Homo sapiens: one gene and its partners. The protein of the gene in region 4 interacts with the protein of the main gene of each other region in a biochemical or structural test. Each region holds a gene or a part of one and is shown on either strand. Other genes may lie near its edges. The genes, in order: RALA, ARL14, ARL11 and PLD1.

Evidence for each region.
Region 1: the proteins of PLD1 (region 4) and RALA form a complex in vitro, tested with the Homo sapiens proteins (2 studies listed by BioGRID).
Region 2: of the proteins of PLD1 (region 4) and ARL14, one has a biochemical effect on the other in vitro, tested with the Homo sapiens proteins (one study listed by BioGRID).
Region 3: the proteins of PLD1 (region 4) and ARL11 form a complex in vitro, tested with the Homo sapiens proteins (one study listed by BioGRID).

The regions. Positions count from the first base shown.
Region 1 is NC_000007.14:39,703,556-39,708,655, reverse strand, and holds the end of RALA (ras-related protein Ral-A precursor), read right to left. Parts: intron 2,534-5,100; coding exon 2,411-2,533; 3' UTR 536-2,410; downstream 1-535. UniProt on the Homo sapiens protein: Multifunctional GTPase involved in a variety of cellular processes including gene expression, cell migration, cell proliferation, oncogenic transformation and membrane trafficking.
Region 2 is NC_000003.12:160,673,239-160,678,948, reverse strand, and holds ARL14 (ADP-ribosylation factor-like protein 14), read right to left. Parts: upstream 1,790-5,710; 5' UTR 1,603-1,789; coding exon 1,024-1,602; 3' UTR 501-1,023; downstream 1-500. UniProt on the Homo sapiens protein: GTPase that recruits MYO1E to MHC class II-containing vesicles via the effector protein ARL14EP and hence controls the movement of these vesicles along the actin cytoskeleton in dendritic cells.
Region 3 is NC_000013.11:49,624,625-49,631,526, forward strand, and holds the start of ARL11 (ADP-ribosylation factor-like protein 11), read left to right. Parts: upstream 1-3,882; 5' UTR 3,883-3,991; intron 3,992-5,805; 5' UTR 5,806-5,823; coding exon 5,824-6,414; 3' UTR 6,415-6,902.
Region 4 is NC_000003.12:171,800,451-171,807,501, forward strand, and holds part of PLD1 (phospholipase D1), read right to left. Parts: intron 1-7,051. UniProt on the Homo sapiens protein: Function as phospholipase selective for phosphatidylcholine. Implicated as a critical step in numerous cellular pathways, including signal transduction, membrane trafficking, and the regulation of mitosis.

The DNA of each region.
Region 1 (5,100 bases), on a different chromosome or scaffold from region 4:
TTAAATGTGCTCATTCTAGCACTGCTTATGAGTTACGAAATTAAAATGAACCAGATTTTGAAAGGTTGTGCTCAATATTGGGCTGGATTGTTTCTAACTTGCAGGCTATTCGATAGTTAATAGGCCACGCTTCCCTCCAGACATCAAACGTTGGCCTGAAGCTTGGTGAAATGGTACAGGGTGTCATTCTTCCCACAATTTGGAAATTGTCTCTGGGGGTCATTCTGATTAGAAAATGAATATAAAGCTGTCACCTATTCATTCTAGAGTTTGGAGCATTCTAAAAGTAATGTACACATTTGTCATTTCATGACGGCATAGAATATCTTCAATGTAGTTGTACACGAGTCCTTCCATTTCTGAGCCTTGATTAAATCTGAGCAATGCTGACACTGTTATTTAGGAAATCTGGCATTACACAAAAGAAGTCTCCAAACTGAGAGCTCAAAAGATTTAGTTGTTTGGTAAAGATGCCTCATTTGATACATTTGAATGTTACATGTTACATTGTAAACATCAAGTAACACCACAAACATTTTAAAAAAGGAAGTTTATTGGTCTTTAAATGGCTCAAATTGCAAATAAACAAATCGGGTAGTGGCATCAGCCTAAGACACGTGATGCATCTTTGTCAGTTGGCTTCATAGCACCTCAGTACCCAGGAGAGGAAAGGTCTCAAAGCAAAGTCACAATGTTAGTGGTTAGGACCCCTGGTTAAATAAGACTGTAATAAGTACACATGGAGATTGCTGGGCCCGCTGGCCAGTGTTACATTGGTAACTTGAATTCCGCACATGGCATAGCCTATGAGAAATACGAAATGAAAGATGTACATCTCAAACCCTTTAAGGACAAATATTTAACATGAGAAGCTGGATGTAAATATCTAAAGAGTGAGTTCCTAAAAAGCCTATTTTTAACTTTACATACACACCTGTTACCTGGAATGCCTGAACACATCTTTGACCTGTTCAAATTAGGACTGAGAAAAAAGAAAAAAATACTTTGTTGAATCAACTGTCCTAGCCCCACTGCAAAGAGGAAAAAAAAAAAATCGGTCAGTGGCATATTTCCCACTGAAATTATGTCCCCAAGTAGCATGCTAGAATTCTTCCAGCAGGTACACCACACAATGGTGACACAGCCTAATGTGTGGTCAGTGTGTGCCACGTTTTCTGCACTATACCCAGGTTTGATGGCTTGATGTTAACTTCTGAAAATGTAGCTACAGTGTTCTTCATTATAAACAGAAACAGAAAAGAATTACTCCTAATAATTCCTGTATCAAACTGTAACTTTATGAATATAAATTTAGAAATGAACAGATGGCAAGCATGAATATTTTCCCGAAGCGTTCTAGTGCAAAATGCATTAGCACTACTGACATTTTCTTCCTATGCCCTGCTCCCAGATTAAAAACTTAACACTTACATGCTCACCACTAGCAGAAAGGGATTTCCAGGGACCAGAATCTCAGAGAAAAGGAGGGTTCATTCAAACATAACTGGTGCTGAATCCTTGCAGCTGAAAATTATCTTGCAAGTATATATGCTGGCCCTTCATTTAAAATGAACTTGCAGTTTATTAAAAGCGATCAAAGAGCTCTGGAATCTTATTTTCAAGAACCAGAATATGGCACACATTTTAAATTTGGACAGACTTCTAGCGGACAGTTACTTCTCAAGAATTTTCTATACAAAAGCTGTGCCAGGCATATATTTTCTCACCAGGACACATGGGGCAGCGGACCCCTGGTGTCAGTAAGAACACACCCAGAATGATATAACCAGATATTTTTCAGTTTCTAAATTAAGGCATATTCAAAAAATTCCATGTACAAGTTTACACCACTTTTCTAAGTTACTCACCAGGTAATTAAAGCAGATTCACAGATGAATTACTCTCAGTTTAACTATATGCAACAACCATGCCAATAACTTTTCTTCTAAATTTTGCATAATAATGGTTAAAAAAAGTGGTAGTTTAACTATCATGTTCACAATTGTCATTTTTCAAGGCAGTAGAAGACCAAGACATTTTAAAATGATATAAAATTTAAGCTTTATAATAAACACCAGAGGAAGTCACCTTTCCTCCCACTCCCCACCCCCATTTCACCTCTTCAATTTCAAGAAAGACTGCCCAAGAAACACAAGCTTACACGCTACATTCAGGACCATGATAAATGTAGGCAATTATGAAATAAGTTGAACTTTGCTTCTTGGTGAAGCCATATTAATTTCTTTTTAAAGTAAATTTGACTTTCATTGCAGTTCCAATTCATGCTTTTAGTGATATACAACAATTTCCAAAATGTTAAAGTAATTTCAGTCAATTAAGCCTTCAATGGCAATGCTTATAAATTATATTTATTAGTATGGTCAAGATAAGAAAGGAGTTTGGGCTTTGATTATAAAATGCAGCATCTTTCTCTGATTCTCTTGGCTAAACTTTTCCTCTTCTTTTTTCCATTCTTTTCTTTGCTGTCTTCCATCTTTCTCGCTCGAATTTCTCTCATTAAATCAAAAAATACCTAGAAAGAAAAAAAATAGGATAAATAAAGCAAACAGATACATGAACTTGGTACTTCTCCAAATCACAGCAGTAAACTTTGGGGGTAACAGAAGTATAAATATTTAAGAGCTCTTGTTTGGGAGTACAGAGCGGAAAGCATAAAACTAAAGCCTGATTTTCCTAGTATCTTGAAAAAAGGAGGAAACTAGGAAGTTTTCTGAATTACACTTTATGGTAAAAATGTTCATATGTAATAAAACCTGATCTTTCTGTTCCAGTTTTCGAGACAAAAGTCTAAAAAGTTCTATAAGGTGATGACAGACCCAAAGATAGAACTCAATGGATTATATTTAAGTAGTTTATAATCAATAAATGTATTTTATTAATTTATATTTAATAATATATGCTTAAATTTATATTTAATAATTTGATTATATTTCATAACTTGGTTTCCTCAGTTCCATTTTTAGAAATGAAGCTGAGGAAGATGGGTGTATGCTTTATCATCTTGATACCAGACACTATGAAACAACTTTGTCTGTTACTCTGTATTTGAGAATTTATCAGTTTTTGTCTGATGTCTAGGAACCGGTAAATAATGAGATATTAGCATAGTAACTAAGAAAATTACGAGTATAACAATTCAAAGTTAAATTTCAATAAGAAATTCCTCTGTTCTGTAACACAGAAGGGTCTGGAAGGCTACACACTCACACTCCTACTCCACATAAACGGCTGAGAGTATATGATAAAAGGAGGAATAACTTTTATGATCACTTTTGAATTCTGGATTTAAAAAATGTTTTTACTTATAGAATTAAAAAACTCAGACTAAAGCAAGAAATATGAAAGCGACAATGAGTGCTGTGAGTAAAGAAGCCTGTGTATGTCATGACTGATGTGGCCTTTCCTAACGCGTCTGAAAAAAGCAAGGCACAGAATAGCAGATGGAGCGCTACCTGTGTGTGTGTGTAGGGCAGGAGTATACATGGATTTGTTCGCCCTTGCACAAAGAACAATGAAATAATAAACCAAACCCTAATAATCAATTTCATTTTGAAGAAGGGAGGAGGGTACAAGGAAGAGTGAGGCATCTCTGAGTGTATCTTGTTATAGAATTTCTACTTTAGAGACATAGGTGTTTTACGTATTCAAAAATAAAATTAGGCCAGGCATGGTGACTCACACCTGTAATCTCAGCACTCTGGGAGGCCGAGGCGGGCAGATCACCTGAGGTCAGGAGTTCTAGACTACCCTGGCCAACATGGTGAAACCTCGTCTCTACAAAAAATACAAAAATTAGCTGGGTGTGGTGGCGGGCACTTGTAATCCCAGCTACTGGGAAGGCTGAGGCACAAGAATTGCTTGAACCCAGGAGGTGGAGGTTGCACTGAGCCGAGATTGTGCCACTGCACTCCAGCCTGGGCGACAGAGCAAGACTCAGTCTCAAAAAAATAAAAATAAAAAATAAAACAAAATAGCAAATCCTAAAAATTGAAAATCAAATTAAAATAAATTAAGACTGGCCAGGCGTGGTGGTTCATGCCTGTAGTCCCAGTACTTTGGGAGGCTGAGGTGGGCGGATCACCTGAGGTCAGGAGTTCAAGACCAGCCTGGCCAACATAGAGAAATCCCATCTCTACTAAAAATACAAAAATTAGCCAGGTGTGGTGGCGTATGCCTGTAATCCCAGCTACTCGAGAGGCTGAGGCAGATCACTTGAATTCAGGAGGCGGAGGTTGCGGTGAGCTGAGATCGTGCCACTGAACTCCAGCCTGGGCAACAGAGTGAGACTCCATTTCAAAAAACAAACAAACAAGACACAAACAAGTAAGACTGACTAGAGGAATTATTTCAAAGGTCTATAAGACAGCATAGAAAGTATCTATTTTAGAATAGATGCTAAGGATAAAAATAGAAACAAAATTCCAACAAAACAAAACAAAGACAAATCTTAAACTTCTTTTTTTTTTTTTTTTTTTGAGAGAGTCTCTGTTGCCCAGGCTGGAGTGGGATGGCGTGATCTCAGCTCACTGCAACCTCTGCCTCCCGGGTTCAAGAGATTCTCCTGCCTCAGCCTTCCAAGTAGCTGGGATTACAGACAGGCACCACCATGTCTGGCTAATTTTTGTATTTTTAGTAGAGACGGGGTTTTGCCATGTTGGCCAGGCTGGTCTCGAACTCCTGACCTCAGGTGATCTACCTGTCTCAGCCTCTAAATGTGCTGGAATTACAGATGTGAGCCACAACACCCAGCCAAACTTCATTTTGTAGTTTGTTTGTGACAGCAATGTTGCTCTTTTGGAACTATTTTATTAATGCAAGGGAGGAATTATGTTAATGTAATTTAGGAACCAAGATCTTCAGTGTAAGAGAAAAGATACAAGTACAAAATCAAAGATGTAAACATTTGTAATGTTAAATTTGAATTGGAAATAACAACATGATCACATTTTTTTCTTTTAATAATACCTATTTCCTAGAACTATTCACTGAAAAATGACAACACAATAGCAACAAGCAAATTATGTAACTATGCTGTGGCTGCTAAATATCATTCCTCCTAAACAGAACCTGAGTTCCTTA
Region 2 (5,710 bases), about 11 Mb from region 4:
ACCTGTACCTTTGTAGGGTCACTGGGAGTGAGGGACCCTCTAAAATACCATCTCCTGCATGAAACATTTCTTGTTTCCCTGGTTAAAAAGAGTATCTCCTGCAATCGCACTTAGCACTTATTGCCCTACTCTAGCTACTAGCTTTATGTTGTTTCCTGCTGTGAATTGTAGGTCTCTGAGAGCAAAGTCTAGGTCTGGTTCCTGTTTGATCAGTACAATGAGCTGCACATATGTTTCCAAGCAATGGCTGTTAAGCTGAATTCCAAGGAAGCAAGACTCGGGGCTGTAGCCTAGAGCTAAGCCCTGAGCCCAGATCTTGCCCTAAACTCCAAGGTGCTACCCCGATCACCAGACCTTTAAGTTTATACACTTCTGCTCCCTATGGCAGAACACAGGCTCTGAGCAATTAGCAGCCTGAAGTTCATTGTTTAAGATTCATTGGAGGAAGTTCCCAGCAATAGATTTCAAAAAGCTGGCAGGAATCCAGAAGAACAGCTTTATTTAGGGAATAAGAAAGCTTTATTTAATAGGGAATACGAATTTACAAGATATTAACATTACGCTTTTTCCACTCCATAATTTGAAGTTCATTTTTTACACCACCCAGCTGTTACATAGGAGCACGGTGGAAATTCAATACCTGTTACAGCTGGAAACAATCTGGAAGAATTCTGACTCTATTAGCAGACAGCTTACTAAAACTTTGTTCTAGTAGTCATATAAAATAATTTATTTGGTCCCAAGTGTCACTACTATATTCAAAGTCATCCAATGTGATAACAAAAATTGTAGAACATTATACGTTTTCATTCCCAGTGATCATTGCCACAGTTTGCTAAAGTTCCTGGCTGAAAATAAATATTTTCTAGATATCATTCTAAGTTGTTTAACTAAATGTAGATGAAATAACATCTCAGGAAAAGTTTGTCAACTCATTAATTTGATTTCCTCATTTGGCATGGAAAAACAATTACCCTTTCAACTTCATCAGTGTCTCTGTAGAGACTTGGATTTTTCGCAGCCTCAGTTCTGCTTGAAGAACGCCAAAGTGTCTCCTCTTGATTTCATGTGGCTCTTCACAAATCCAGTTAATTTCCTGAACCCCTGGGCCAGCCCCTCCCCTGTGAGGGCACAGCAGGGTTGCACATACCAGTTCCGGTCACTGCAAAGCTTCTTCACTTTGAACATTCTGGTGATGTCCTCAGCAGTCAGAGCTCCAGGCATGTCTTGTTTGTTGGCTAATAGAACAACAGGCACATTTTTAATGTGTTCATTCTTCAAAATGTGCTCAAACTGTCTCTGAGACTCTTCCAGTCGCTGTTTGTCTGTACTGTCCACAACATACACCAGCCCATCGGTGTTCTCACAGTAACAGCCCCAAACAGTTCTCATTTTTTCCTGTCCTCCAACATCCCAGACTGTGAGTGAAAGATTCCTTTCCAACTCGATCATTTCCACATTGAAACCTATTGTAGGGATGGTGGTAATATCCTTAGCAAGCTTTAATTTATAAAGGAGAGTAGACTTCCCAGCTGAGTCAAGTCCCAAAAGAAGAACTTGGGCTTGTTTGGTTTGCGGATTTTTAGAACCCAGCGAACCCATTTCAGCCTTTTTCTCTCTCTGTCTCTAAATACCTTTTTTTTTTTTCTTTCTTTCTTTCTTCGAATGGCCAGAGACAATGTGTCCTTTCTGGATCTCACATGAAAATGTTAGGAAGAAAGAAGAAAGCAAATTCTTCATGCTGTATTCTAAGAACAAGAACCTAGATGTGTTTATGTTGTAGCTTATCAACTTGATTATGGGCAAACAGTATTTTATTTGCAGTCCCAGCCAATCCTGAGGGATCTGTGGTATGAGTAACCAGCCAATGCCATGGTGACTCAAAGGGGAAATTCTCTGTGAATGAGTAAGATTAGGAGAGGCCTACCTGGCTGATGCTGCAGTTTTGTTTTCTTTCAGGTGCTAGAAATCTAGAGGAACCTGAAGGTTCAGACACGCAGAGGAGCATGGTTTAGTAGCAGAATAAAAACTTAACTTTTCATTTTAACTAACTTTTAACTTAAATTTAACTAAACTTTTTGTGTAACTTTTTGTGGAACTTCTCTAGGTATTCAACCATTTATCTTATCCCAGTTGTAAATAAGGAACCAGGCTTCTTAAGTTGTGAAGAGAGAGTTATTCTCACACTCTGTCTGCAGTATCTTAAATCCGCCTTGTTCAGATTACTCAGTAGGAAACTTTAAACCACTCAAGGTTATCTGAACCTTACTCCCTAATCACATACAGAATCACTTTCTTTAAAATTCTAGGCAGAGAATTTACACTACTGCAGTCACAAAACCAAATATATGAGGGGGAATTTATAACACGAACAGTTTTACATTAAGCAGTCCAATTAAAGATGGCAAATAAAAACATGCATTTATTTCCTCTCCTTCCCAAGACTCCACAGAATAATGGTAAAGGCATTAAAAGAACATATAGGCCAGGCATGGTGGCTCACGCCTGTAATCCCAACACTTTGGGAGGCCGAGGTGGGTGGATCATGAGGCCAGGAGATCAAGACCAGCCTGGTCAACATGGTAAAACCCCATCTCTACTAAAAATACAAAAAAATTAGCTGGGCGTGGTGGCCCGTGCCTATAATCTCAGCTACTTGGGAGGCTGAGACAGGAGAATCGCTTGAACCAGGGAGTCGGAGGTTGCAGTGAGCCGAGATCGCACCACTGCACTCCAGCCTGGTGACAGTGAGACACTCCGTCTCAAAAAAAAAAAAACAAAAAAAACATATAAATCCATAACAAAACAGCAAGATAATTCATCAAAGGGTCAGAAATTTTAACAAAATTCTGGAAAATGGAAACTAGATGGAAAAATGAGTGATAACTGATATAGCAGGATAAAGCCAAGGCTTGGAGTGCTGATGCAGAGGAGATAGACAAGAGGTGACAGGTATGGCAGACAGAAGGGGTGAAATAAAGGACTAAAAACAGCAGAAGGTAACAAGAAGCCAAAATAAACAGAACACACACACACACACACACACACACACACCCCTCTGCTGGGTGTCTTCAGCAACTAGATGTTTATTCCCAGGCAAAATACTGAAGAGTTTTTTATTAAAGAAATTGAATGATCTCAGAAAAAAGATCTCCATGTTTTGACAGTTGGGAGTTTCTGACCATAATGCCAAAGTCAACATGTAATTAACCTATAGCCAACCTGGCAGTTGGCAAACTTGCTCACATACATAGAATTCCCAATCAGCTTTGCAGTGCACAGAAGTTTCTATACTTAATGGATAGCATGCCTTCAATATGAATAAGAGAGAGACCAAGATAAAAATAAGAACTTTTAAGAAAGCTTAAACAGAGCTAATGAAGGGAACAGAAGAACATTTTCATTAAATTCTAATTACTATTTTTATACAGACTTGAGAAGATATTACATCCATAAGACAAGAAATGGATGGTATTAAACAGACCACTCAGAGAATAAAAACAAAACTCCTAAAAATTAAAAACACAAATTTCAAAAAATTTTAAAGATCAGTAATACCTGTAGGCTGGAAGACAATATTGAAGGAGTCTTTCAGAAAGTCGAAGATAGAAAATACAGAAGAAAAGATAAGACATATAGAGGATGAACTCAGAAATCTTAACTCAGAAGTCTGATTTATAGGACTTATTCCAGAGAGAAAAAAAATATGCACAAGAGGAAATTATCAAGAAATAATATGGGACCACTTCCCAAAGCTAAAGAATGAACTTGCCAGATTGAAAGACTTCCCTCAACGCTTACCAACATGATTTTTAAAAGAGCTATACCATGTGATATACATGTTTTCTTATTAAAACTAAAAATTTATTTAGAGTTTTTACACAAAATAAGTAGACTATTTTAGATGCAGAAAGCACACGTATGAAGAAATTCTGTAACCTTTTATAAAGAATTAAGTTCTTAACCAACTCACTATATCTCAGAGGCTAAAGATACTGTTTTGATTTGTTCATTGATTTATTCATCTAACCATTCAGGAAATAAACATATTGATGGCCTAGTCTGTGCTAGATGCCAGAGAGATCACAAAGATAAACTAGGCTTGCCTTTAGTTGACTTTCACTGGGGAGAAGGTAAAAGATATGTGACCAAATAAAAATACATACAAAGTCAAAAAATTATACATGCTACAAGAAAAGAAAGGCTAATGTATTCTAGGTATTCACAGACTCTTTCAGAATGAAAGGCGTCAGAGAAATCTTCCTGGAGAAGGTTAAGTATTGAACCAGGCCTTGTAGAGACACGTGAGGGCATACATGAAAGAAACAGTCTGTGAGAGCAAAGTCTTAGAAATGGGAAAATATGGGGATGTATGTGGAAAACCAACTGTATATGGATAAGTAGGGGTTTCTTCCATAAACATTTTGAACTATCATGATAAAACCATAAGATAAATCTAGATTATAGGCCATGCTGCAAGACAACAGACTTGGACTCTACAAGGTAGGTCCATGTCATGAAAGACAGAAAGGAAAAAAAGGATCGGGGGAAGAATGTTCTAAATAAAAGATACATGACTACTAAATGCATTGTGTAAACTTTTATTGGATCCTGTGTCAATAATAGTGATTAAGGAAATTACTATAACAATTATGAAAATTCAAATTGGGGAAACTTGATTATGAACTGTATATTAGATGGTATTATTTATCAATGATAAATTTCTTGAAGGCAATAATTCAATTGTTATGTAGGAAGATGATTTTGTTTCAAGGAGATACAGGCTAAAGTACTTAGGGGTGATATCAGCAAGTTAATTTCAACTGGCTCAGCAAACACATGCACACAAAGATATGTATGTATATGGGAGGGAGGAAGTGTGTGTAAATATGGCGATAGTTGGTGGCTCTAGGTCAGAGGTATTGAATGTTCATTTTACTATTTTTTAACTTTCCTCTAGATTTGAAATTTTTCAAAATAACATGTTAAAAAAAGAATATAATTGAAATAAGCTAATAAAATTAGACTGTAGTCCATAGTAATACAGAAAATAATTCAGCTTACTTAGGGGTAAGTCCGTACTTCCAAAGGTGAATTTAGGGACTTTGACTGCACTACTGCTTAAGCTCTTTCTCACCTCCATATTTCAACAATTAAAATTTTTGAAAGAAGTTAAACATTTATTTTATAATAAACTCAATGATTTGAGTGCTTTATGAGGTCTACCGTTGGTATTGGGGACATCCTTTAATATATTTTTGCTGTAATGAGCATGATCATACATATATGCCTTCATTGTCTCCCATCTGACCAATTATACCTTGTTTTCGGGATAGCCAAACAAATGAGGGCTTAAATTCTGCATGAATATTATATCCACATAAGAATATGATTCTCTTCTGTGAAAAGAAATAAGATAATTTCTTTGTCAATGCTAATTGTCATGAAAGAATCTACAAATGTTTCAATATCCTTTCTTACTGTCCCAAAACATTTATGGATTCATGTGTCCCAGCCAAACTTGAGGGAAGGCAAGGTATTTGTTTTCTGTAAATCATTCTAAGATTACGCAAATAAAGGTAGACTTGTGAGAGAGTTACTGGCAGGCTAACTGTGGTGTCACAGGAAATTTGTTTTAAAATATGGGAATGAAAGAAACATTTTCTTTAATTTCTTACCATGGAGGTGTGAGGCAAAAAGTCCTAAGCTC
Region 3 (6,902 bases), on a different chromosome or scaffold from region 4:
CAAACAGATCCCATAAGAAACATCAGAAGAAGCATCCTGGCTTACAAGTTATTTTTTGGTGAGTGCAATGGGCGTGCCGTGCTCCTCCAGGCCTGACCACCTGTATGAGAGTTGGCAGGAGGACATTTCTAAACTCACACTCTTAGGGCAGTAGAGATGGGGCCTAAGACCTTTGTCTCTCCTGGTATCAGTGAGCCCCGTGTAGCCCCTTTTCCTTATTCCAGGTCTGGAAGCTGCAGTCACAGACACACAAAGGTGCTGGGGCTTGCACATTCACCAGCGTCACTTTCTCCAGCCACACCACTACGTTTGAGGGCTCTCCTGTCCTTCTCTAACAGAACTAGTCTGGGACTAGACGCCAGGCTTTGGGCTAAGTACTTGATGTGTCTTCACTTATTAAATCCTTCCAATAACCCTTCAAGTTAGGTACCATTATTATCGTCATCAACCTCATTTTATAGAGAAGGAAACTGAGGTGCAGAGAAATTCAGGTTGAGGTTCACAGCAAATAAGCAGTGGAGGCCAAGTGTGCCCCCAGGTGGACCCAAATCAAAGCCACACTGTTACCTTCTGCTCTGCGCTGCCTCCCGGGGCAGTAGCCCTCGTGAGCCTCCCCACGTTGGGGTGTCTAATGAAAAGCTTCCCTGCTGGTTGAGCTGAAGGGGTCAGGGTCGGGGCTGTACAGAGAAACTCAGGCCACAAGGGCCTTTGGGCAGAACTGGGGTCACAAAGTAATCATGGTTTCCCAGCGAACACAAGACTTTGGCCCTCAGGCAAGGCTCCTTGATGTCTGGGGGAGCCTGTGCCCCCCAGCAGTGCTCACAGATCCACCCCTGACTGCCAGCCGGCCCCTTGATGGCGGTGCCTGTCTCAGATTCTGTGGTCAGTGCCACGCAGCTACCTCCAGAGGCAGCCTGCAGCCTGGCCATGTGGCCCCAAGCTCCAGGCTAGAGGCCAAGGGGAGTGTCCCTTCTCTCTCTGTGTCACCCAGGGCATAGGTCACCCAGGCAGCCTGGCATGGTGCCTCCAAGCCACTGTGCTAATGCTTCTACAGCTTCTGCTCCCTCCCTGCCTCCATGGGGCCCAAACCTAGCCCTGGTGCTGCTCTGGGAACTGGGTCAGAGCAGCACCCCAGCTCCCCCACCCCCAGGAGCCCCTCAACCTTGGCCTGCTGTCATCCTCGTCCGGCCCCAATCTTCCTGCAAATCGGGCCCTTGCAGGATTCCTGCTGACTCAGCAGCTGGGCCCGGACAGGACTTAGTCCCAGCGTGAGCCGATCCCGCTGCAGTTTGGGCGAGAATGACAAGCCCTCCACCAGACGATTCTTTATTGCTCTGAGACTTCCCTGGGATAATTCCACCCCCAGGAGCACTCTATCTGTTTCTGTCTCCTCCCCACACACCCCCTGGCCTTGAAAAAGGATGATCACTGACCACAGGCACTGAAAAGAGCAAACCAAGAGCAGCATCAATACCCTCACACAGTGGTGCACATAACACACTTTGAGTTTCTGACTTTTCCTAATCAGTTCTTCCTGCTAAAATACAGTAGCTTAACAAAAACAATGACAACAACAATCTGGTGTTTGCCATTTACAAGGCACTTTCTGTGTGAGTAGCATGACATGGTAAAAGAGAAAGAGATGAATTATAAAACGCAGCAAGATCATGAGTCAATGATTCACCCTGTCCCAGCCTGCTTCTTTTTTTTTTTTTTTGAGACAGAGTCTTGCTCTGTCACCAGGCTGGAGTGCAGTGGCGCGATCTCAGCTCACTGCAACCTCCGCCTTCCGGGTTCAAGCGATTCTCCTGCCTCAGCCACCCGAGTAGCTGGGACTACAAGTGTGCGCCACCATGCCCAGCTAATTTTTGTATTTTTAGTAGAGATGGGGTTTCACCATGTTGGCCAGGATGGTCTCGATTTCTTGACCTTGTGATCTGCCCGCCTCGGCCTTCCAACCGAGCCTGCTTCTTTTCTTGTAAAATGGAAGAGTCATAACATCCAACTTGAGTCTTGATATTTTAATGAAATAATGCATGGGAAAGCAGAAAACAGCACAAAGATTACTGGTTATAAGAGCTAAATCACTGTGACTCCATATCCAAATTCAATACCTACTGAATCAGTGGTTTCTGACTAGTCAATTTTTTTTCTTTTTTTCTTTTTTTTTTTGAGACAGAGTCTCGGCTGGGTGCAGTGGCTCACACCTGTAATCCCAGCTCTTTGGGAGGCCGAGGCGGGCAGATCACTCGAGATTAGAAGCTGGAGACCAGCCTGGCCAACATGGCAAAACCCTGTCTCTACTGAAAATAAAAAAATTATCCAGGCATGGTAGCACGTGCCTGTAATCCCAGGTACTCGGGAGGCTGAGGTGGGAGAATTGCTTGAACCTAGGAGGCGGAGGTTGCAGTGAGCCGAGATTGTGCCATTGCACTCCAGCCTGGGCGCCAGAGCGAGACTCCATCTCAATTAAAAAAAAAAAATAGGAGAGAGACAGAGTCTCACTCTGTCTTCTAGGCTGGAGTGCAGTGCTGTGATCTCAGCTCACTGCAGCCTCCACCTCCTGGGCTCATGCAGTTCTTGGGCCTCAATCTCCCAAGTACCTGGAACTACAGGCACACATCACCATGCCTGGTTAATTTATTATTTTTTGTAGAGACGTGGTTTCACCATATTGGCCAGGCTGGTCTTGAACTCCTGAGCTTGAGCGATCCTCCTGCCTTGGCCTCCCAAAGTGCTGGGATTACAGGCATGAGCCCCCATGCCCGGCGACTAGCCAATTTTTTAAAAATTACATTTTCTAGAGGTGTCATTTTTACTGGGAAAAACACAGTGACACCATTCAAGAAAAAATTGAACGGTAACTTTAATCACTACATTAACACAATTTTAAAGGTTGATCTGCATCATACATACCTTTTAAAGAATGTTTTCATCATATGTAGACAGCTTTTTTTGTTTTTTGTTTTTGTTTTTGTTTTGAGGCAGAGTCTCGCTCTGTCACCAAGGCTGGAGTGCAGTGGTGTGATCTGGGCTCACTGCAACCTCCGCCTCCCGGGTTCATGCCATTCTCCTGCCTCAGCCTCCCAAATAGCTGGGCCTACAGGTAGGTGCCACCACGCCCAGCTAATTTTTGTATTTTTAGTAGAGACGGGGTTTCACCATGTTAGCCAGGCTGGTCTCGAACTCCTGACCTCGTGATCCACCCACCTCAGCCCCCCAAAATGTTGGGATTACAGGCCTGAGCCACCACGCCTGGCCATAGGCAGCTTTTAAAAGAACACATGTGCAGCCTGGCCATCATGGTGAAACCTGTCTTTATGAAAAATACAAAAATCAGCTGGGCATGGTGGCACCTGCCTATAATCCCACTTGCTTAGGAGGTTGAGGAGGGAGGATCGCTTGAGCCCTGGAGGCGGAGGCTGCTGTCCAGCCTGGGCGACAGAGCAAGACTCGGTCTCAAATAGAAAACAAAACAAAACAACAACAACAACAACAACAAACCATGTGTGATTCCAAGCAAATCAGAGAATCTCTAGCCACCAGAAAAACCTTGAGGCATGTACTGAAAGGAAGAGGTCAGAATTCTCTGCGAGGAGCTCAGAGGATCCTGAGGGAAGAGAGAAGGCGGCTGCGCTTGGACACAGCTCCGAGCTCGTGCTCCCTCCTTCAGGCACCCAAGTCTGAGTTGCTAAAAAATGGAGCTGTCACTGGGCCTTGCTCTGCCAGGACCTGCAGAGCCGGGGACCTCTCTGTGGCAAGCCCAGCAAGATGACTGCTCTGAGGCGCCCTAGGGCTGAGGGAGGGGCCGTGACACCAGCCCCGCCCCCCAGCCACCTGGGAAAAGGAAGCACAAAAAGGAGAAGCAGCAACGGCTGCTCTGCTTCCTTCCCATCTCGCTCTTGGGTCATGCCTGGCCAGCAGAAAGCAGCTCCATAGGGGAGGAGAGCCACGCAGGATCTCACAGCTGCAGTCTAATAGTAACACAGAGGTAATTTTAACTTTTTACTTTTCTACCCTTGGGAGTAGGGATGAGTAGAGGCTTACCTCCTTCCAGAGGCAGCTCATATCCCCCCACCCCCATTCCCGGAAGTTGAGATGTCTCTTCTCTGTTCCACGCAGGCATCGTCTAAGTTGGGAACAGGTCTTATGTCTTAAAATTTGGGATTCTTTAAAAACATATGTGGCTGGGCACAGTGGCTCACGCCTGTAATCCCAGCACTTTGGGAGGCCGGGCAGGTGGATAATTTGAGGTCAGGAGTTCAATACCAGCCAGGCCAACATGGTGAAACCTCGTCTCTAATATAAATACAAAAAGTAGCTGGGTGGTAGTAGTAGCTGTAATCCCAGGTACTCGGGAGGCTGAGGCAGGAGAATCCCTTGAACCTAGGAGGCGGAGGTTGCAGGGAGGCAGAGGTTGTGATGAGCCAAGATTGCACCACTGCACTCCAGTCTGGGTGACACAGTGAGACCCTGTCTCAAAACAACAACAAAAATGTGTGATGGCACATGCCCATAGTCCCAGCTACTGGGGAGGCTGAGGTGGGAGGATGGCTTGAGCCTGGGAAGTCGAGGCTGCAGTGAGCTGTGATCATGCCACTGCAGTCCAGCCTGGGCGACAGAGTGAGACCCTGTCTCAAAACAAAACAAAACAAAACAAAACAAAAAAACCCAAAAACAAACAAAAAAGCACATGTGGAGTGTTGTAGAAGTCATTGACCTTGGTAAGACAGTGGAGGAAACTGCTTTGCTCTGACTCATAAATTTGCCCCCAGTAAACAGTATTTATAAATAGCCCCAGTCAGGCACTGCATGAAGACATTTCAGTCAACGACAGACCACATATACAACGGTGGTCCCATAAGATTATAACAGAGCTGAAAAATTCCTATTTTTCAGCTTAGTGTTGTGGTGCAACCACTACCTTTTCTATGTTTAGATACACGAATACTTAGCACTGTGTTACAATAGCCTACAGTACCCATTACAGGAATGCTGTACCGGTGTGTAGCCCAGGAGCAATGGGCCATACCATATAGCCTAGGTGTGGAGTAGACTAGACCATCCACGTTTGTGTAATTACAATCTATGATTTTGTAAAATGATGAAATTGCCTAATGAAGCATTTCTCAGAATGTGTCCCCGTCATTAAGTGACACCTCACTGTGTTTCCAAGACATAGTACTGGTCCTTGGGAAGCTCTAAAGAGAGGTCACCGTGAGCTGAACCATCCTTCTCACTCTGTGCATGGAACCCAGCTTAGCTTCCATTTCAGCATTTAGGCTTATAGGAGGAGAAGAGGTTAGAAGCCACAGACCAGCAAGAATTGAAGACATCGTTCTGTAATTTCTACTGAACCAGCTCTGTCTGACTGGAACTTCATTTTGCCTCTTTGCTTTAACTCCTCAGGAATGTCTTCCAGGAGGCCCCTGATCTTCTCTGCTCAGGGACCACTCTTATCTGACCCAGAGACAGGTTAGCTGATGGTGACTCACACATCCTCACTTCCTTCAAAGCCCAGGCATCTGTTTAAAATCTGACCCTGTGAAGACTTTTCCTGTTTTGGAAAAACTCTTCCGTTGTTTGCCTGCACAGATTTGTGCTCCATTTTTAATTTCAATTTTTGTAGAGAAGGCGGGTCCTTGCTTTGTTGCCTCGGCTTGTTTGAAACTCCTGGGCTCAAGTGATCCTCCTGCCTTGGCCTCCCACAGTGCTGGGATTACAGGTGTGAGCCACTGCACCAGGATGGATTTGTCTTCCTTCAGAAGACAGTAGCTGATGTGTGCCCTGGCCTTTCTCCCCTAGGATTCAGCAGTGGCCACCATGGGTTCTGTGAATTCCAGAGGTCACAAGGCGGAAGCCCAGGTGGTGATGATGGGCCTGGACTCGGCGGGCAAGACCACGCTCCTTTACAAGCTGAAGGGCCACCAGCTGGTGGAGACCCTGCCCACTGTTGGTTTCAACGTGGAGCCTCTGAAAGCTCCTGGGCACGTGTCACTGACTCTCTGGGACGTTGGGGGGCAGGCCCCGCTCAGAGCCAGCTGGAAGGACTATCTGGAAGGCACAGATATCCTCGTGTACGTGCTGGACAGCACAGATGAAGCCCGCTTACCCGAGTCGGCGGCTGAGCTCACAGAAGTCCTGAACGACCCCAACATGGCTGGCGTCCCCTTCTTGGTGCTGGCCAACAAGCAGGAGGCACCTGATGCACTTCCGCTGCTTAAGATCAGAAACAGGCTGAGTCTAGAGAGATTCCAGGACCACTGCTGGGAGCTCCGGGGCTGCAGTGCCCTCACTGGGGAGGGGCTGCCCGAGGCCCTGCAGAGCCTGTGGAGCCTCCTGAAATCTCGCAGCTGCATGTGTCTGCAGGCGAGAGCCCATGGGGCTGAGCGCGGAGACAGCAAGAGATCTTGATCCAGACAGAGCAGCATATCTTTGCTCATACAAACTAGAAGAACCAGCTGATCCTTGAGAAATTTACGCTTAGTCTATCAAACAAGAAATGCTGGCTTGGCCCGGTGGCTCATGCCTGTAATCCCAGCACTGTGGGAGACCACGGTGGGGGAATCCCTTGAGCCCAGGAGTTGGAGAGCAACATCACAACACCCCATTTCTACTAATAATCAAAAAATTGGCCGGGCATGGTGGCATGTGCCTGTAGTCCCAGCTACTTGGGAGGCTGAGGCAGGAGAATCGCTTGAGCCCAAGAGGTAGAGGTTGCAGTGAGCCAAGATCGCGCCACTGCACTCCAGTCTGGGCAACAGAGTGAGACCCTGTCTCAATAATAATAATAATAATAATGATGATACTCTAAGAAAAAAATCTCAACATACTTCATTTAATAGCTCGTTACCAAGTGTGAATGAAGCAATATGTCATAATAGAGTAGCCACTGGTTGCAT
Region 4 (7,051 bases):
CACCCACCTTGGCCTCCCAAAGTGCTGAGATTACAGTCATGAACCACCGTGCCTGGCCCAAACATAATTTTTAAAAGGCAAATATACAATAGTATGTTTTCTAAATGAGATGCTCTGATTAAATGTGGTATTTAGAGATGCTCCAGAAGTCTGCTGTCTACATCCCTGGACCCAATCTCTACTCCAATGCCAGCCACCTGTCTTAGTCCACTCAGGCTACTGTAACAAAATACCATAGACTAGGTGGCTTATAAACAACAGAAACTTACTTCTCACAGTTCTGGGGGCTAGGAAGTCCAAGATCAAGGTGCTTGCAGATTTGGTGTCTGGTGAAGGCCTGCTTCCCCAGAGGCTGCCTTTTCACTAACCCGTCACTTAGTGAAGAGAGTCAGAGGTCCCTCTCTGGCCTCTTTTATAAAGGCACTAATCTCATTGATAAGGGCAGAGCCACCATGGCCTAATCATCTCCTAAAGGCCTCACCTCCTAATACCATCACCCCTTGGGGTGAGGATTTCAACATATGAATTTGAGGAAGACAAATATTCATACCACTGTACTGCCCTGAAACAAAGCAGTTTGAAAATCACTATCAAGGAAAATTGGAACATACAATCATTATAAAAGCCAGCCCATTTCAGGAGGCCTGGCAGGATTCTGCTGCACAATTCAGTCCTGCCTTTGGATGACTGCATTAGACTATAAGCTGTGGGGCTGGAACCACATTTTAGACTCACTAGCCTAGGCCTAGTACTGTGTTAGCACCAAAAAGACTCTGTGCTTGATAAATTCTTCAACACCATCCTGAAGAGGGGCTATTGCAAATACAGGATGAAAGCTTTCACTGCCAACTTTATTGGCCTTCCAGGCAATGGATCTGCAAAAATTACTTCACTGTCAGTCAAACCTACCCCGTGTATCTGGTGAGATCAGACAGGACGAACATATCCAACATGCGTTTCTGGCATGCCTTTCTTTTTGTTTCTTGTTTTTGTTTTGAGACGGAGTCTCGCTCTGTCACCCAGGCTGGAGTGCTATGGCACGATCTCAGCTCACTGTAACCTCCACCTCCTAGGTTCAAGCAATTCTCCTGCCTCAGCCTCCCAAGTAGCTAGGATTACAGGCACTCACCACCACACGCAGCTAATTTTTGTATTTTTAGTAGAGATGAGGTTTCACCGTGTTGGTCAGGCTGGTCTTGAACTCCTGTCCTCAAGTGATCTACCTGCCTCAGCCTTCCAAAGTGCCGGGATAACAGGCATGAGCCACTGTGCCCAGCCTATGGCCTGCCTTTCTTACAAAGTGATACACATTTCCCTAGTCCCCATGACACTACCAAAAACCACCCCGGTAGAACTCAAAAAAGGTAGGAAACAGGAGTTTCCCCAAATCAGTCTCATTTATGTTACGATACTTTCATGTTTAATCGATCCATTCTATCACAGATTATACACCCACATGACAGATGCAACTGAAACAAGTTTTTGCAAGCTCTCTGAAAACGACAGGAGGCATTCACATAGAAAGCTACAGATTTTATTTCTCATCAGTTGAGAGCAGCACTTTGTTCCAAATTGCAGTAATATCTCAGCAATGAATCATTGTCATAAAAACAGCAACATCTGTGAGGTCAGAAAAGAACAATTAGGAAAACAAATGAATCCCTTGGGAACCAGGGTTCACACTAACATCATATATTTATATAACAACTTGGAAAGGTAGTCATTCAACAAGTAGTTAGTGAGCACCTACTACATGTCAGGAAAGTCCCTACTCTCATAAAGCTTAAGTTCTTGTGTAGAAAACCCAGTAAGCAAGAAAAAGAGAAAAGAAAAAGAATTTCAGATAGTGGTGAATCCTAGCATGAAAATAACCCTAGGTGAAAGGCTGGAACAGGATCAGGTAGCAAGCAATGCAATGTGGACTGTGAAGTGAGGCAGCTTTCAATGGTCAGGGAAAAAACCTTTCCAAGGAGATAACATTTGACCATTTTGTCATTGATCCAAATGACAAAAAAGAAGGAAGCCATGCAAAGACTTAGGAGAAGTGTGCTCCAGGCAGAGGGAATAGCATGATTAAAAGGCCCTAAGATGGAACAAAGCTTGATGTGTTCTAAAAACAACCTTCCTAACAAACTCTGGAGATAGGCAACTGTAGTTCAGAAAGGTGAGAAACAAGTTGATCAAGGTTACACAGACGCTAAAGTAGAAATGAAACTTAGCACACCTGACTCCTCTGATAGTCTCCCTGCAACACGCTAGCTGCCTTCCTAGTTAGAAACCCAGGCTCCAATGAATGAGCATGAGAAATCAGGCCAATGGGGCAAAGAGTGGCCCCTGATTACCAAGTTTCACAGGATCAGAATTTGAGTTCAAACATAAAAATCGAGGCTACCATACAATGTGGCCAGGGTCCAGCAGCCCAGATGACCTGATTCTAAGCAAGGTACACAGGTGCCAGGGCTGGAGAGCAAGAGCCCACAAGAGGGGCCCAGAAGGCACATGGGGTGATCATCAAACTCCCAAGGGAACTTACAAAATACTATTTTGAGTCCCATTCCTCAAGAATCTAAATTTATTACATATGTGATAGAACCTGGAAATTTGTATTTTAAGAAGTTCCCAGGTGATTTTGTTTAGCCAGACTTTGGAACTACTGTGATGGAGAAGGAGGGAAGGCCAGCTCTTCAGGAGGTTGCAGGGAGAATTCTATCTCTACAAAAGGAAGAATCAAGGGTTAAATTGAATGCAGTTGAGACTTGTACCAGACCAGATCATAGGCACAGAGAGATAAGAACATTGCATAACTAAGCGTATTCCTTTCTCCCCAACCACATCCCCAAATTCAGAATCACTGTGACGGTTGACAGAAAAGTGCAGGAGAAATCTCTTTGGTCATAATGAGAAAGAAAGATGGGGTGGAGAAGCTCGGATATACCCCCTGGGCAAAGCCAGTGGTGTGCTGAGAAATGCTTAGCAACCAGGTCCGGGTGGAGGAGAAACCCTAACTGTAGTGTTTGCCAATTTCGATGGTGTAAATATTCCTGGAAGGCCAAGGCAGGAGGATCACTAGGTCAGGAGTTCAAGACCAGCCTGACCAACATGGTGAAAGCCTGTATCTACTAAAAATACAAAATAAGCCTGGCATGGTGGTATGCACCTGTAATCCCAGCTACTTGGGAGGCTGAGGCAGGAGAATCGCTTGGACCTGGGAGGCGGAAGTTGCAGTTAGCTGAGATAGCACCATTGCACTCCTGCCTGGACAACAAGAGTGAAATTCTGTCTCAAAAAAAGAAATTCCTATCATGGCCGCTTCCAAGTTACCAACATGATATCACTAGAACATACAGTTTGGGGAAGACGTGCAATAGTTACAGTATTTTCACCATATAGAAATAATAAACATAAATAGCATAGAGAGCAATAAATTTAGTAAAATAATTAGTAAGTCAGAGGTGTGGGTATTTATTATCTTTTAAAAATAGTTTTAACATCACAGTGATGTTAGTGCCAAAAATATACTTCATCCCCAAATTCTGTACTCCTACCTTACCTCTTACCTCTTTTTATTCCAAAGCAGGAATAATGGTGACATTTAAAAAACAATATCTAAAACATCATCTTCATTTTTTTTTCCTATTCTTAGCCCCTTTGGTTAAATTTCTCACTTTTGGGTCTGTATCTTCAGAGGACCACTGCCCTACACATCTGGAAATGTTTTTCTGCTCCAAGTCATAAATCTCCAATCCCAACCCATGGCTACCTACTCAAACTCTTTATTTCAAAGGACTCCTTCATCAGAAATTGGGCAGAAAAAGATCAATGAAGTGAGTACAGCTGTTTACCCAAAATGCCACAGACTGTCCATTCTACATCTACACATTTTATTTTTAAGAATAGTTAAATGGCACCATAGAGCAAATAAATAAGTAAAACGTTAATTATAAAGACTTATTTTCTGGAAATACCTATGTATTTTGAATAAAATGGATTACACCTTCTCCCTTCATCCATGTACCCTTTCATTCAGTTCACATCTATTGTACACTACAATGGACACTGGAGACACAAAAATGACAAAAACACAGTCTGTGACCTCAAGGACCTTGCCCTCTCACACGGAAGACAGACAATAGAAAAAATAATGGCAAATCCAGTGATTCTAATATCACACTACATATAAAATCCACCCATGGAAAGTGGCATAAACCAAACTAGACTAGACTGTTATGAAGATCCCAATCAGGGGCTAAGAGTTCCCTTGTATCTTATTGTCCACATGCTTTGTTGATTAGCAACAGTTTAAACATTAAGATCCCATCAAGATAAACCAAAGGAAAGATCATCTCCAACTGCTTATGAGATTTTGAAGGCATCATCCAGTGGTAACACACTGAGATGCAAGGCTTTTTGTAAAGAATTGACAAAGGTATTAGCTCCCTGCTTCCTATCTGTGGCCCTCTGCCAATGCCTCGTCTCTGCATTTGTTTCTCCCCTCCCTTTCTACGGCTTTCCTTTTCCCCATGTTTATTCCTATTCTCCTTCATCTAAATGTGCCATCTGTAAAAGCCTACTTTGAAAAAGATCACTGTTAAATTCTGAACCCTTATTTTCCTGTTCTTAATATAAAGTTCATAAGTTTATGGCCTCAGAAGTCTCTCTCTCTCTTTCTTAACAAAAGAACTGACTAAACTAAGTTATTTTTATTTCCATGTTGCTTTTGGCTGGTTTTCTTTTGTGCGTCAGAGGCTTCCAAAAGGTTCCCAACTCTAGATCCAAAAAGTTCAAAAAATGATTGAGTACAGAATAAAATATTGCCCTCATCCAGAGGGGAGCTGAGGGTCACGGGCATTAGGAGCAACGGGGGAAGCAATCCAGGATTCTGGAGCCCTAGGAAGCAAGACCTGCCATGACCCAGTCGGCCATAATGTGGGCCCTTATTTAGCAGATTAGCTCTAGTATGGTCATAACAATTATTAAAATATTGAAATGCTTCCCTCTGGAAATATTGCACATAACACCCAACCCCTTCCAAATACACCTGGCCTCCCAGACTCTCCCAGGATCCCTGGCCCAATCTCCTCACAATCAGGAGTTAAGGCCTGGCCCAGCAGAGGATCTCCAGGACCCTGCCCCAGTGCTTCTACCCTTTGACATACCCATGCTCCACCTTAATTTCGTTTTCCGAAAAATAAAGGACTTGAACAGATTGTCTGAGTTGCACTATAATTGCAATTATGTCAAAGAACAAGGACGAAATGGAAATAAAAAAACCTAAAAAAAAGTTTGTTAAGAGGATGGAATCACAGGTTATGTTTTTTTCTAGACAGACAGCAGTGTCAAAACTCTGGGTGCAAGCTGCCTGGGATGGATCCCCAGCTCTACCATGTGCTAGTTGTGGGATCTCACTATGCCTCAAACTGCCTCATCTATAAAATGGGCATAGGCCAGGCTCAGTGGCTCATGCCTGTGAATCCCAGCACGTTTGGAAGCCAAGGTAGGAGGACCACTTGAACCCAGAAGTCTGAAACTAGCCTGGGTGACATAGCAAGACCTCATCTCTACAAAATAAAATACAGTAAAACAAACATAAATAAATAAATTAAACGGCCATAATAAGATTACCTACTTTACAGGGTTGTTCTGAGGGTTAAATGTATTCATGTTTGTAAAATGCTTAGATGAGTGCAAGGCACAAAGTAAACACCACGTAAGTGTTTATTAAATAAATAATTCATTTTATTCTGTCGTTGTAATGTTTGCTCAATAAATTTAAAAATTAAGAAAGTTTCACAACAGAAAAAAAACACTGTGACACTATGAAACACTTACGTAACATACACTTTTGCTTAATAACCCAGCACTAAAACAGCTGGGGTCCAGATTTTACACTGCACTGTGAATTTAGGGAAACTAACACACTGGAATGTGTTCCCACTGAAGCATAAGATGCGATTTGTATGATTCTCTTTGTAATCAGAAATGTCACAGGCTTATGGGAAAGTTAGGTTTACATGTTTCTCATTTTAACCCTGCAACAACTTTTAGCCACACCCTAGCAAATACATTTTATTTTGTGGTGCTAAGACTTAAAGGATTGTAAACACAAAACCAGACCTTGCAGAGCTACAGCTTTTCTTGTGAACACAATGACTCAGCCTAACTACAAGTTTAAAGAGACATATCTTATGTGTTGGGTCCCCTAGTATCAATCTTTAGTAAACATCTGGGATGGACAGGAAATTGCTACACACTGCTTTTAGTTACTAAAAAGGCAACACTACCTGAGCTCAAGCATAGTTTAGATAGGTACTATTTGCACTGCTATAGAGGACAACACTGACAATTGTTATTTTTCTGATAGATACTCAGGAGAGGAAATGATCAATAACAATAATTCCCTTACGTGTTCCTTCCTCTTGACAGCTAAACCCCACAATACCCTTAGACACAAGTTTAAATACATCACAAGCTTATCCTCAAACAGTAATGTATTAGGTCTTTCCTGCTGTAGATAAGATTTGTTAAACAGTCTGGCTATGGCTTTTTACCTTTTCTCTTTTAAAAGTGCATTTCTCAGCTGGGTATGGTAGCTCATGCCTGTAATCCAGCACTTTGGGAAGCCGAAGTAGGAGGATTGCGGGAGCCCAGCTGTTCAAGACCAGCCCTAGCAACACAGTGAGACGCCATCTTTATAAAAATACAAACAAAACTGGCCAAGGATGGTGATGCGCACCTCTAGTTCCAGCTACTCAGAAACTGAGATGGGAGTATCACTTGAGCCTAGGAGGTCAAGGCTGTTGTGCCACTACACTCCAACCTGGGCAACAGAGTGAGACCCTGTCTCAAAAAAAAAAGTTTAAAAGGTGCATTTCTCTAAAGCTACGAGAAGGAACTCAAACCTTGCTTAGTGATAAAACTAAAGCCTGCAACACAACCATTATCATTAAAATGTTATTAAAACCCTGTAAGAAAGATGAAGAGTCTTGTGGATGGATGGTGGTGACGGTAGCACAACGATGTGAATGTATTTAATGCCACTACATGTACACTT